Homo sapiens: one gene and its partners. The protein of the gene in region 3 purifies or fractionates together with the protein of the main gene of each other region. This does not show direct contact. Each region holds a gene or a part of one and is shown on either strand. Other genes may lie near its edges. The genes, in order: PPP1R9A, AP2A2 and MYO6.

What was found.
Region 1: the proteins of MYO6 (region 3) and PPP1R9A purify together in Homo sapiens (affinity purification with mass spectrometry; 2 studies listed by BioGRID and IntAct, with this or other methods). This does not show direct contact.
Region 2: the proteins of MYO6 (region 3) and AP2A2 purify together in Homo sapiens (affinity purification with mass spectrometry, with the first as the bait; one study listed by BioGRID). This does not show direct contact.

Annotation. Positions count from the first base shown.
Region 1 is NC_000007.14:95,267,573-95,271,303, reverse strand, and holds part of PPP1R9A (neurabin-1), read right to left. Parts: intron 2,755-3,731; coding exon 2,597-2,754; intron 2,098-2,596; coding exon 1,797-2,097; intron 1-1,796. UniProt on the Homo sapiens protein: Binds to actin filaments (F-actin) and shows cross-linking activity. Binds along the sides of the F-actin. May be involved in neurite formation. Inhibits protein phosphatase 1-alpha activity.
Region 2 is NC_000011.10:932,250-935,980, reverse strand, and holds part of AP2A2 (AP-2 complex subunit alpha-2), read right to left. Parts: intron 2,457-3,731; exon of another isoform or gene 2,384-2,456; intron 1-2,383. UniProt on the Homo sapiens protein: Component of the adaptor protein complex 2 (AP-2). Adaptor protein complexes function in protein transport via transport vesicles in different membrane traffic pathways.
Region 3 is NC_000006.12:75,888,739-75,892,238, reverse strand, and holds part of MYO6 (unconventional myosin-VI), read right to left. Parts: intron 2,183-3,500; coding exon 1,974-2,182; intron 1,012-1,973; coding exon 933-1,011; intron 1-932. UniProt on the Homo sapiens protein: Myosins are actin-based motor molecules with ATPase activity. Unconventional myosins serve in intracellular movements. Myosin 6 is a reverse-direction motor protein that moves towards the minus-end of actin filaments.

The DNA of each region.
Region 1 (3,731 bases), on a different chromosome or scaffold from region 3:
CCTGGTGGTGTCTTTTCCTTTTTATTCCTCTGGTCAAACTTCTTGTGGTTTCCTAGTAATATGGCAAGTTATCTAAGATGTTTAACTTCTAAAGCTATATACTTAACCTACTGGCTCACTTTTGTGTGTAACTACTCCACCCTGCATAAGCAAACTGCTACAGCCAGGCTGGGATAGCCTTGTACCTTTAAATCATATGATATGTGCCTGTCTCTGTTAATGACATCACTTTACCCGCTATTCCCTCCTTACCTACCCTTTTTTTCCCTTAAGTGCTTTGATGGCTATTCTAATTGTACTTCCTTGGATAGGTTTTGTTTACCAACCTCAGCTGGACGCAATCTCTCTCTCTTCTGAGCGTTGATATAATTGTACTCTATCTATACTTGCAGAGGCCCAATGCTTTTAATAAGCAATAAATCCTGTAAAGCTTTAAAAAAGCCAGTTTCTATTTACTAGACATTAATTCAATGAATATTTTTGAACACATCTTCTGGGTCAAATAATGTGTTATTAACCACACAAAAAATTAGAATAATAATCTCTAGTAATTGTGAGTAGAAAATTGATAGTGTTCAATTTACTTTATTTAATCTTGACTGAACAAAGGCCCAGTGCTATGTAAGCCTCGGGACCAAAACTTTAGTATTAGGTTGTTTATATAACAGGAACGAGGAAAATATTTTCATGCCTTCTACTGGCATATAACCTGTTTTACAAATCTCTAGAAAAAAATCTTTTACTTCCTCTAATTTGATATTCCGTTAGATGCTTATCATTTAGCCAGTTATAATGGGACTTCTCCATCCTAATTTCCACTGATGTCCCTCAGATATGAAAAAAAATGATTTGTAAATGTGGTATTGACACAATTCAGAAAATCGCCAACTCCTGTTAGGGTAACCAGAGCCTTATCCTCAAGCCTGCAATCAAACATGGCTGTAATTAATCATCTTTGTGGTAACTTGATAGACCAAAAGTAAAGGTATAACACTTTTTAAAAATTCTAGATAAATGGCAACCAATGATGAAGCCATTTTCAGAGTTTATCCAGCAATTTTGAGTATAAGAAAATATACTTCTAGACCAGGCATCAGGAAGCTTTCTTTACCTTTCAGGGGCCACAGAGTAAAATATTTTAGGTTTGTGAGATACACAGTCTCTGTCACAACGACTCAACACTGCTACTGTAGCATGAAAATAGATAGTATGTAAGTAAAAAAGTGTGACTGTACTCCCATAAGACTTCATTTACAAAAGCAGGTGGAGACTACATTCGGTTGATTATCCCTCTTCTAGAAGATCTGCACTGGTTACGTGGAGAGGTATATTAGCAATTCATCCAAGAACATTATTAAGTATCAATTATATGCCTGTGTTACTTTGATCTTCGTCTTTTTTTCCTATATGACTACGTTAGTGTTTACTGAAACTCTGGGCTGCTATTCTACAAAATCGCTCTATATTTTTCTATATGACTATGTAGTGTTTTTTTCTTTATGACTGTGTTAGTGTTTGTTGAAACTCTGGGCTGCCCCACTCCCCTGAAGAACTCCCTTGAGTAGTAAACTTATAGAGAGCTGAAGAGATAAAAATACTGAACCAGATAGGAAAAGATAAAACTAAATTAAAGTAAAATACATGGAGGGGTTGTTTCTCTTATTCTATAATATAAAAAGAAATTAATATTAATTATTAGCTATGAGAAAACAAATGACTTATGATTATGAGAAAAAGTCATTTTTATACTGTACAAGCTGAGGTGTTATGAAGTCAGAAAAAGAAATTAACAATACCTTTTTCTCGTAATATTTTCTTGTTGGTGGTTTGGTGATGGCAAGGAGATTCTTCCACATCATGATCAGACTTTGAAGTAGAAAACAGTGAAGTGTCTCCCCACATAGAGGAGAGAGGCCCCATTTCTGGGTCCAGTGGTTCTTCTTGAAATTCAGCTATGTGGTCAGACGAGAAGGGCACATTGCTATCCACCGGGGTGAGGGGTGGAACACCAGAATCTGATTCTGGAGAAGACGTTCTCAAACCCTTAGGTGGAAGTAATTTGGTAATATGCATGTGGTTATAGAAACTGTTTGATGGCTGTTGGTATAAGAGATTATAAGGAAGGTTATGCCACTGAGTATCAGTTCTATGCAATACTTACTTTGAAATAAGACCAACCTTTTATTAGTGAATCCCCATGAAAACCAGTTTTTGTTGATTTACAGATGAGAATGCATGGTTCATACCAATTCACCATATTAACATCGTCACTAATACATATACCTAAGACCTACAGAAACAATTACTTGTACGTTCATTATTTCCCACTAAGTAAAACCAATAGCTGAATATCAAAAGCACCATCATGAAATATGACAATACAGATAATGCTCTTGGTTAGTTCACTGAATGAATAGACAAAATATTTTGAATTACAACAATATAAAGAATTCAGGAGACAAAGACGTGAACTATTCTAGCTGCTTACCAACTAGGACATAGACTCTGTTTGCAGAAAAATCATAATCTTCAATAAGCTGTAGGAACAATGATATACTCCAACAGTACAAATCAGGAAACGGTCAAGGGTGCTCACCTTTCTCTCTAGACTGTCCTCCCCATCTGTGGAACTAACACTATCATACAGTCTTGTCCTAGAGGGTCTCTGGCGTCTGTTCTTCACAGAGAGCTGGGCTCGAGTTTTCAGTGCTTTTGAATCCAGGCGCTCTGTCTCTGGGACTGCTTCATTCAAGTCTAAGAATATTGAAAGATAATCAGTGAGAGAAACCTTTGGAGAGAACTGATGAAGAGACCACAGACACTGATAAAATCTCAAGGTAACCAGTAACATCAGGTAAGGATCAGGTGACCACCATGACAGCCTGTAACCAAGAAATAACCAAGAAATCAGTGGGGCTTAGGAGAAATATACAAAGTCAAAGGAAGAAACCAACACTAAAGATGATGAAGGCGCTATAAAAATCCAACATCCGAAAAGCATACAACCTTCCTGCAATATAATTATAAAAATCACTAATTTGTATTTACTATTTATGTGTATGCATGTTGGGAAGTTAGATGACCAAAGATATAGAGGAGGGTATATCAAAAGTTGACAGATCTTAGAAACCAAGGACAAAAAACCTACAAAGTCAGGTTTCCAGTTCAACTACAGGCAACAGAAGGTAACTATCATAAATTTACTGTAGCAAAATTTACTAGCAGTCTTCAGGTACTATATCATTTTCATTTTAATATATAATTTTCAACCCAAAACAGTTTCTGAAAATCTACCTTGTTCCTTTTTGAAACCTGTAGAAAGACCAGTGAGGAATTTACCTAATCAGCAAATTGACGATAGCTGGGGAAAAGAAACAAGGTCTGGCTACACAAATGAAGAAACAAACAGTTAAAAAATCGTAAGTACTTAGTTTACTAGTATTGTGGATGAGGTAGGATAAACATTTCCTTTTCTTTCATTAACATCTAACTTTGTATTACAAGTTATTTGTATGTGCCTCTGACTCATCTCTGTGAATACCTTCTCTCCCCACCAGAAACGACACTGATTTTCGAAGGGTAAATACTTAAGTCTTTAAATAAAAAGGCTAAAAGAAAAAGAGAGTAAAGTGGGACACAAAGAAAATGAACTATTAACAGCAAAGGCCACAGAGAGAATTCAATTAGTCCTCTTTAGCCTGGCTCTTACCACCTTTAATTTTGCTACCTAG
Region 2 (3,731 bases), on a different chromosome or scaffold from region 3:
GCAGTGAGCCGAGATAGTGCCATTGCACTCCAACCTGGGAGACAGAGCAAGACTCCGCCTGGGGGAAAAAAAAAAAAAAAGGAATAGGCCGGGCGCAGTGGCTCACGCCTGTAATTCCCAGCACTTTGGGAGGCCAAGGCGGGTGGATCACGAGGTCGGGAGTTCAAGACCAGCCTGGCCAAGATGGTGAAACTCCGTCTCTACTAAAAATACAAAAAATTAGCCAGGTGCCTGCAATCCCAGCTACTCAGGACGCTGAGACAGAGAATTGTTTGAACCCGGGAGGCGAAGGTTGCAGTAAGCCGAGATCACACCACTGCACTCTAGCCTGGGCAACACAGCGAGACTCTATCTCAAAAAAAAAAAAAAAAAAAAAACTGGCCGGGCACAGTGGCTCACACTTGTAATCTCAACACTTTGGGGGCCCAAGGCAGGCGCATCACTTGAGGTCAGGAGTTCAAGACCAGCCTGGCCAACACGGCGAAACTCTGTCTCTACTAAAAATTCAAAACCGCCCAGGCACAGTGGCTCATGCCTGTAATCCCAGCACTTTGAGAGGCCGAGGTGGGTGGATTGCTTGAGGTCAGGAGTTTGAGAATAGCCTGGCCAAAATGGTGAAACCCCAGCTGGGCGCGGTGGCTCACACCTGTAATCCCAGCATTTTGGGAGGCCGAGGCTAGCGGATCACAAGGTCAAGAGATCAAGACCATTCTGGTCAACATGGTGAAAGTCCGTCTCTACTAAAAAAAATACAAAAATTAGCCGGGCATGGTGGTGCGCGCATCTGTAGTCCAAGCTGCTCGGGAGGCTGAGGCAGGAGAATCACTTGAACCTGGGAGGCAGAGGTTGCAGTGAGCAGAGATCGCACCACTGCACTCTAGCCTGGCAACAGAGGAAGACTCAGTCTCAAAAAAAAAAAAATGGTGAAACCCCATCTCTACCAAAAATACAAAAATTAGCCGGGCATGGTGGTGCGCTCCTGTAATCCCAGCTACTCCGGAGGCTGAGGCAGGAGAATCGCTTGAACCCAGGAGACAGAGGCTGCGGTTAACCAAGATTGCGCCACTGCACTCCAGCCTGGGTGAGAGAATGAGACTCCATCTCCAAAAAAAAAAAAGAAAAGAAAAGAAACACGTACTTGCTATTTCAGCTACATTACATGAAACACAAAGGCGGTCCACAGAAAAAGCAAAACATAAATCCTAATACAGTGCCGCCTGCCCTAAGGAGCTCAAAGTTCTTTAGATATGCTAAATAACTAATCCTCATTACACCCTTGTGCTGCCATCAGAGGGATTTTAAAGGTAAGAAAAACACCCCACAACGCAAAAACAAAAGCCAGGCACCCCATGTTGGCTGTTGGTCTCTACACTTCTAAGCAAACCCGTAGACAGACACCAAAGCTTAGGGTGGGTGAGAAGAAAGGTAAATGGGGAGTATCCTGAAGCCAAGCACAGAGATGAACACAAAACCATCACAACTCGGAGTCTGAATTTCAGGCAAAGATGAAGACTCCAGGCTCTCGACAGGGCTACAATTTGAAAAGGTGGGAAAGGGCTGGGCGCAGTGGCTCACACCTATAAATCCCAGCACTCTGGGAGGCTGATGGGGGAGGATCACTTGAGCCAAGGAGTTCAAGACCATCCTGGGCAACATAGTGAGACCCTGTCTCTAAATTTTAAATATAAATATAAAAAATTTAAAAGTGGGAAACAAAGGAGAGTAGAATCAGGATCTGACCCAAACCCCCGGCTAGAAGTGTTATTCCTAAGAACGCACCCAGCAGGAGGTCTGCCACTCGACCTGGAGTTTCGACCTGGAGTTTCCTGAGGTATCGGGGTGGGGGCGCTGAGGGAGCTACATGGGGCAGAAAGAACCTAGCATGGGAGTCAGGACTTCCCTGGCCTCAGGGACACACAGCAGCTGTGGGCACAGCACTCCTCCTAAAATCCCGGAGCACCCACCAGCCCCTCAGCCCACCCCTGGCACCCTGTGCTCCTGCCACCTTCCCAGCCTGCTGAAGCCTTGATACCCCCAACCATTCCCACACTCCAATCACCAGGTAAGGGGAAGTGCAGGCTCCAAAAGGCAACAAACGTTTAAAATCGAGAATCAACTGAACAGAAGATACAAGTTCCCCTCTGCCAACAATGTTTCAGGAAAAAGCGTGCAAAGCTGGCAGAAAGTCATGTCTGAATACAGAAGCATGGTTCCAAGCTCCCTGTGTCTCTGGGGTCATCCCCGCTCCTGAGTGCCCACGAGTCACTGGAACTCGCCTCTCCCACCCTGGTGCTGGGCATCTCACTGCCTCACACTCTTCTTGGTCCTCTTCCCAATTCAAGTCTCCAGGGCGCTATTTAAAATAGGGCTGCTTCCTACTCACATGCTATTTCTTCTATGCGTCTTGGCCAGACCCTTACAACCCTGTCCCAAGCACAGAGCTCATCTTACCACACAGCTTCAGCCCCCACTTCTACACGGGAACACCCACCTCAACCTATCCCACCCACCCGGAAATTCTCTCGTGACAAAACTGCACATACTGCTTTTCAAGACGTTTCAACCAGCTCAGCTTTCAAGCTAAAGTCAGGAAGGTTCTGAAGAAGGAACATGCTGCCAGAATCAGCAAATGTGGTTTTATAATCTAAGTCTGGGACATCATGTGGCCTGGTAAAAACTGTTCATTTCTGGGGTTTTTTGTTTGTTTGTTTTTGAGACGGAGTCTTACTTTGTCGCCCTGGCTATAGTGCAGTGGCGCAATCTTGGCTTACTGCAACCTCCGCCTCCCAAATTCAAGTGATTCTCCTGCCTCAGCCTCCCAAGTACCTGGGATTACAGACACGTGCCACCACACCTGGCTAATTTTGTATTTTTAGTAGAGACATGTTTTTCCATGTTGGTCAGGCTGGTCTCGAACTCCCGACCTCAGGTGATCCACCTGGCTCGGACTCCCGAAGTGCTGGGATTACAGGCGTGAACCGCAGCGCCCGGCGTATTTGATTTTTTTAAGAGCCAAGGAAATGCCATTTAATCCTTCACTGACAGCCTTTCCAGGAACTCTTCTACTACAAAATCTTGACACAGATTGTTACCAAAAGTAACAGTTCATTTTAAGAGGAAAGAGAAGTAATAGTAAGTATCTGGCACAAAATATGTTCACCACCAGGACACTTCAACTTGTCATAAAAGAAAGTGATCCTGACCTTCAGAGGAGCCAGACGGAAAACACTGTGAAGAGAACCAGGGTGTCCCAGAAGCAGTGACCACCAACCTTGGCAAGAAAAATTCAACCCGAGCAAGGACTTCCTTCCTTCTCTCCATAGCCACCATGACACATTTCCTAAACTGGTTTCTAAGGAACACACATTATGCAGAAGCATGCAAAAGAAGACATGCAAGGAGAGCATTCTTTTCTAAGAGTCAGCACTTTTTAGGAATGTACAGTCAAAAGGACAAAATGAGCTTTTAACTGTGAAGGTTATTTAAGAAATGCAAAAGCAGACTGACCAATTCTGATGCTGATCTTCACTCGTCTGCACGAAAATCAGTATAACTTTATGTTTAATTTTTATACTGAAGTTTAAGCAGAGTTTAAAATTTAGTGTTCAGTTTCTCCATATCTAATTTATGACTCCATAACTGGAATTGCATGAACAAATAAAATTTAACTTTAGTCCCACTGAAACACAATTCAAAGGGTATCTAATTTCAAGAAAGTTAACAGAAATGGC
Region 3 (3,500 bases):
GGCATCCCATTAACACTAACACCTAGAGAGCAGATGTCAGGAATTTAAAGTTTTGGTTATGCTTAGGATATATTATGAAAGCCATGACAAACAGAAATTCAAATACATGAGCAATTTATTCTCAACATGGGACTTTTTAAAAACTAGGGGTGGAGAGAGACTCTTAATCCTAATTTATTAATTCCAGTATCTACAAAGTTATATGATATTTTAAAACTTAACATTTTAAGTGAATTTTCATTTGACTTTCCCCTAGGTATAAAAACAATTATTAATATTTATTGATCTACACAGTGTTCACAATGCTTTAACATGTATTAACTGTCAAATGCTTGCAACTATTATTTATCCACATTCTACAGAGAGACAACTGTGACCCATAGTTCCTCACTATAATGTGTACAATGTCACAATTTCTGTCAGTGACTGATCTTGGATTTGAACCCACTTCCCTAGCTCCAAAGTCCATTCCCATAACCACTTCAAAAACTGGCCTTTGGTCTCTAGGATAAACTAGTGACAGCTTATCTAGCAAATCAAGATCTCATTTTCACTTCTTTCATAGGTTCCATTTTATTTTATTTATTTTTTATTTTTTATTTTTTTTGAGATGGAGTCTCGCTCTGTTGCCCAGGCTGGAGTGCAGTGGTGTCATCTTGGCTCACTGCAAGCTCTGCCTCCTGGGTTCACATCATTCTCCTGCCTCAACCTCCCAATTAGCTGGGGCTACAGGTGCCCACCACCATGTCCGGCTAATTTGTTTTCGTATAAGTAGAGATGGGGTTTCACCATGTTAGCCAGGATGGTCTTGATCTCCTGACCTCGTGATCCGCCCGCCTCGGCCTCCCAAAGAGCTGGGATTACAGGCATGAGCCACCACACCCAGCCTGTAGGTTCCATTTTAATAGAAATTCAACCCAGTAAGTACATACTTGAATGCGTTTTTCATCATCTTCCCTTTTCTTTCTCTCTTCTTCTTCTTGTTTTCTCTTTGCTTCCATCTCAAGTTTCCTAATAAAAAATAGAAAACTCTTCAAAAATTTAACAGAAAATAAAGAATCCTTCAGAAGGCAATTTAACTATTATTTAATAATAAACAAAGGTAACAGATTGGGAATGCAAATTAACCTCCTGGCCACATACATCAACTTATTTTGAATAAAATAAAATTTAACTCTATTGACAATAATTCTTAAATAAAACAAATATAATTATATTCTATAACTTTTAACATCTCTAGATGAATGTGGTTACAAAGCCTGGCTGTAAGGTCCTGATTAAAGGTGCTTCCCTCTAGTCCCTCTCCAAGTCAACAACTCATCTGTTCTCTCTACCCTATCATGGCAATCTTTCAAAATGTTATCAGTTTTAAAACTGCAGAAAAGTAGAAGTGTCATTTATCTAGCTTAGAAAACAATAAACAAATCATAGTTTTAAAAAGAAGAAAATCCTCAGGTGTAAGAGGCTAACAAATTCAGATTATAGTTAAAATTATTTTATGGTATCACTATTATAAAATGACCTTATTCTCTCAATTTTCAAACTTATTACAAAATTAGTTCATTAAAATAAGAACACAGTTTTAAGAATTGTCAACCGAGCACGGTGGCTCACGCCTGTAATCCAAGCGCTTTGGGAGGCCGAGGCGGGTGGATCCCCTGTGGTCAGGAGTTTGAGACCAGCCTGGCCAACATAGTGAAACCCCGTCTCCACTACAAATACAAAAATTAGCCAGGCGTGGTGGTGCGCACCTGTAATCCCAGCTACTCAGGAGGCTGAGGCAGGAAAATCGATTGAACCCGAGAGGCAGAGTGCAGTAAGCCAAGATCGCGCCACTGCACTCCAGCCTGGGCAACAGAGCAAGACCCTGTCACAAAAACAAAACAAAACAAATAATTGTCATTAACCACTGTCAATACCAAGAATTCACTATTTCTTTAAGTCTCTTATTCAAAATAATATAAATGCCTCACATCCGCCTTTCCTCCTCTTCCTTTCTTCGACGTTTTTCGTCTTCTTCACGTCTTTTTCTTTCCTTTTCCATTTCTTCTTGAATACGCCTCAGCCTTTCTGCTTCCTCTTCCTGCTGTTTTTTTTTCTGTAATGCACTGAGGAGTTCCTCTGAGCTTTTAACCAGTGCATCATATTCTTTCTGGATTTGTTCCTGCGTCATCATAGTGGACTTTAAAAAATAAAATAAATAGGTACGTAAAAGCTTATTTCTTCTGTTGCACAACAATGTGAATATACTTAACAATACTGAATTATAAACTGAAAAATGGCTAAGATAAATTTTAATGTTTTTATTGTTTTTTACAATTTAAAATAAAAAACTACTCCAATATGCAAATACAGCAAAAACTAGGTAAGATGGTAAGCAATACGTCCGTTATCTTTACTATACTGTTTGTACATTAAATACTATTCAAAAAATGTTTTATGTTATCTCTGCACACAAGTATTACACATCAATTAGACAGGTAATCTGTGGATAAGGTAATATACTGCAGTTAAAAATTATTTCTAGGCCGGGTGCAGTGGCTCACACCTATAATCCCAGCCCTTTGGGAGGCCAAGGTGGACAGATCACCTGAGGTCAGGAGTTCGAGACCAGCCTGGCCAACATAGTGAAACCCTGTCTCTTATAAAAATAAAATACAAAAATTAGCTGGGCATGGTGGTACACACCTGTAGTCCCAGCTACTCGGGAGGCTGAGGCAGGAGAATTGCTTGAACCCGGGAGGCGGAGGTTACAGTGAACCGAGATCATGCCACTGCACTCCAGACTGGGCAACAGAGCAAGCCTCTTATCTCAAAAAGAATTATTTCTTAAGTAATGATCAGCTAATTTAGCAATAGTTTACTACTATTTTAGAATAATGTTCAAATAGTACCTAGAGAATATTTTAAAAATTACAAAATATATCCAAAATTATTGGATTTCTAAAATTAGCCTTCAAAAAATGTGGGTGGGTTAATTTTAATTTATAATGATACCACATAAACAAAGATGGCCCTTGACAGATTTATAAAATCAGCTGAGTCTATTTATAGCATTTTCATTTTCCTCCAGATCTTTTTTTTCCTTTCTACCTCCAAGATTGCCATTGTTTACATAAAATATCTGCAGAAAATATAAAACGCTCACTTTAAGATATTCATTATATCCCACATACTTGCACTGACCTATGAAACTGAGAAAAAGCATTAAAACTCTAAAATATAATGAGAAGATATGAAATGTAATTAATGAAATATGAAATATAATTAACAAGCATATAGAAAAGTCTTCAACTCCACTAGTAATCAAATAAATAAAAATCAAAACAAAATAAGGGATCCCATTTTTTTCCTACAAAATTGGAGAGGAAATTGCTATTTTCACAAAATTAATTACATTATCGTATCTATGAAGATAATGTATTAACATGGACAAGTATATAACAATGGTAGAGATAGAAATTGAAATGTATATTATGATAAGAACTGTAAAAATGTAT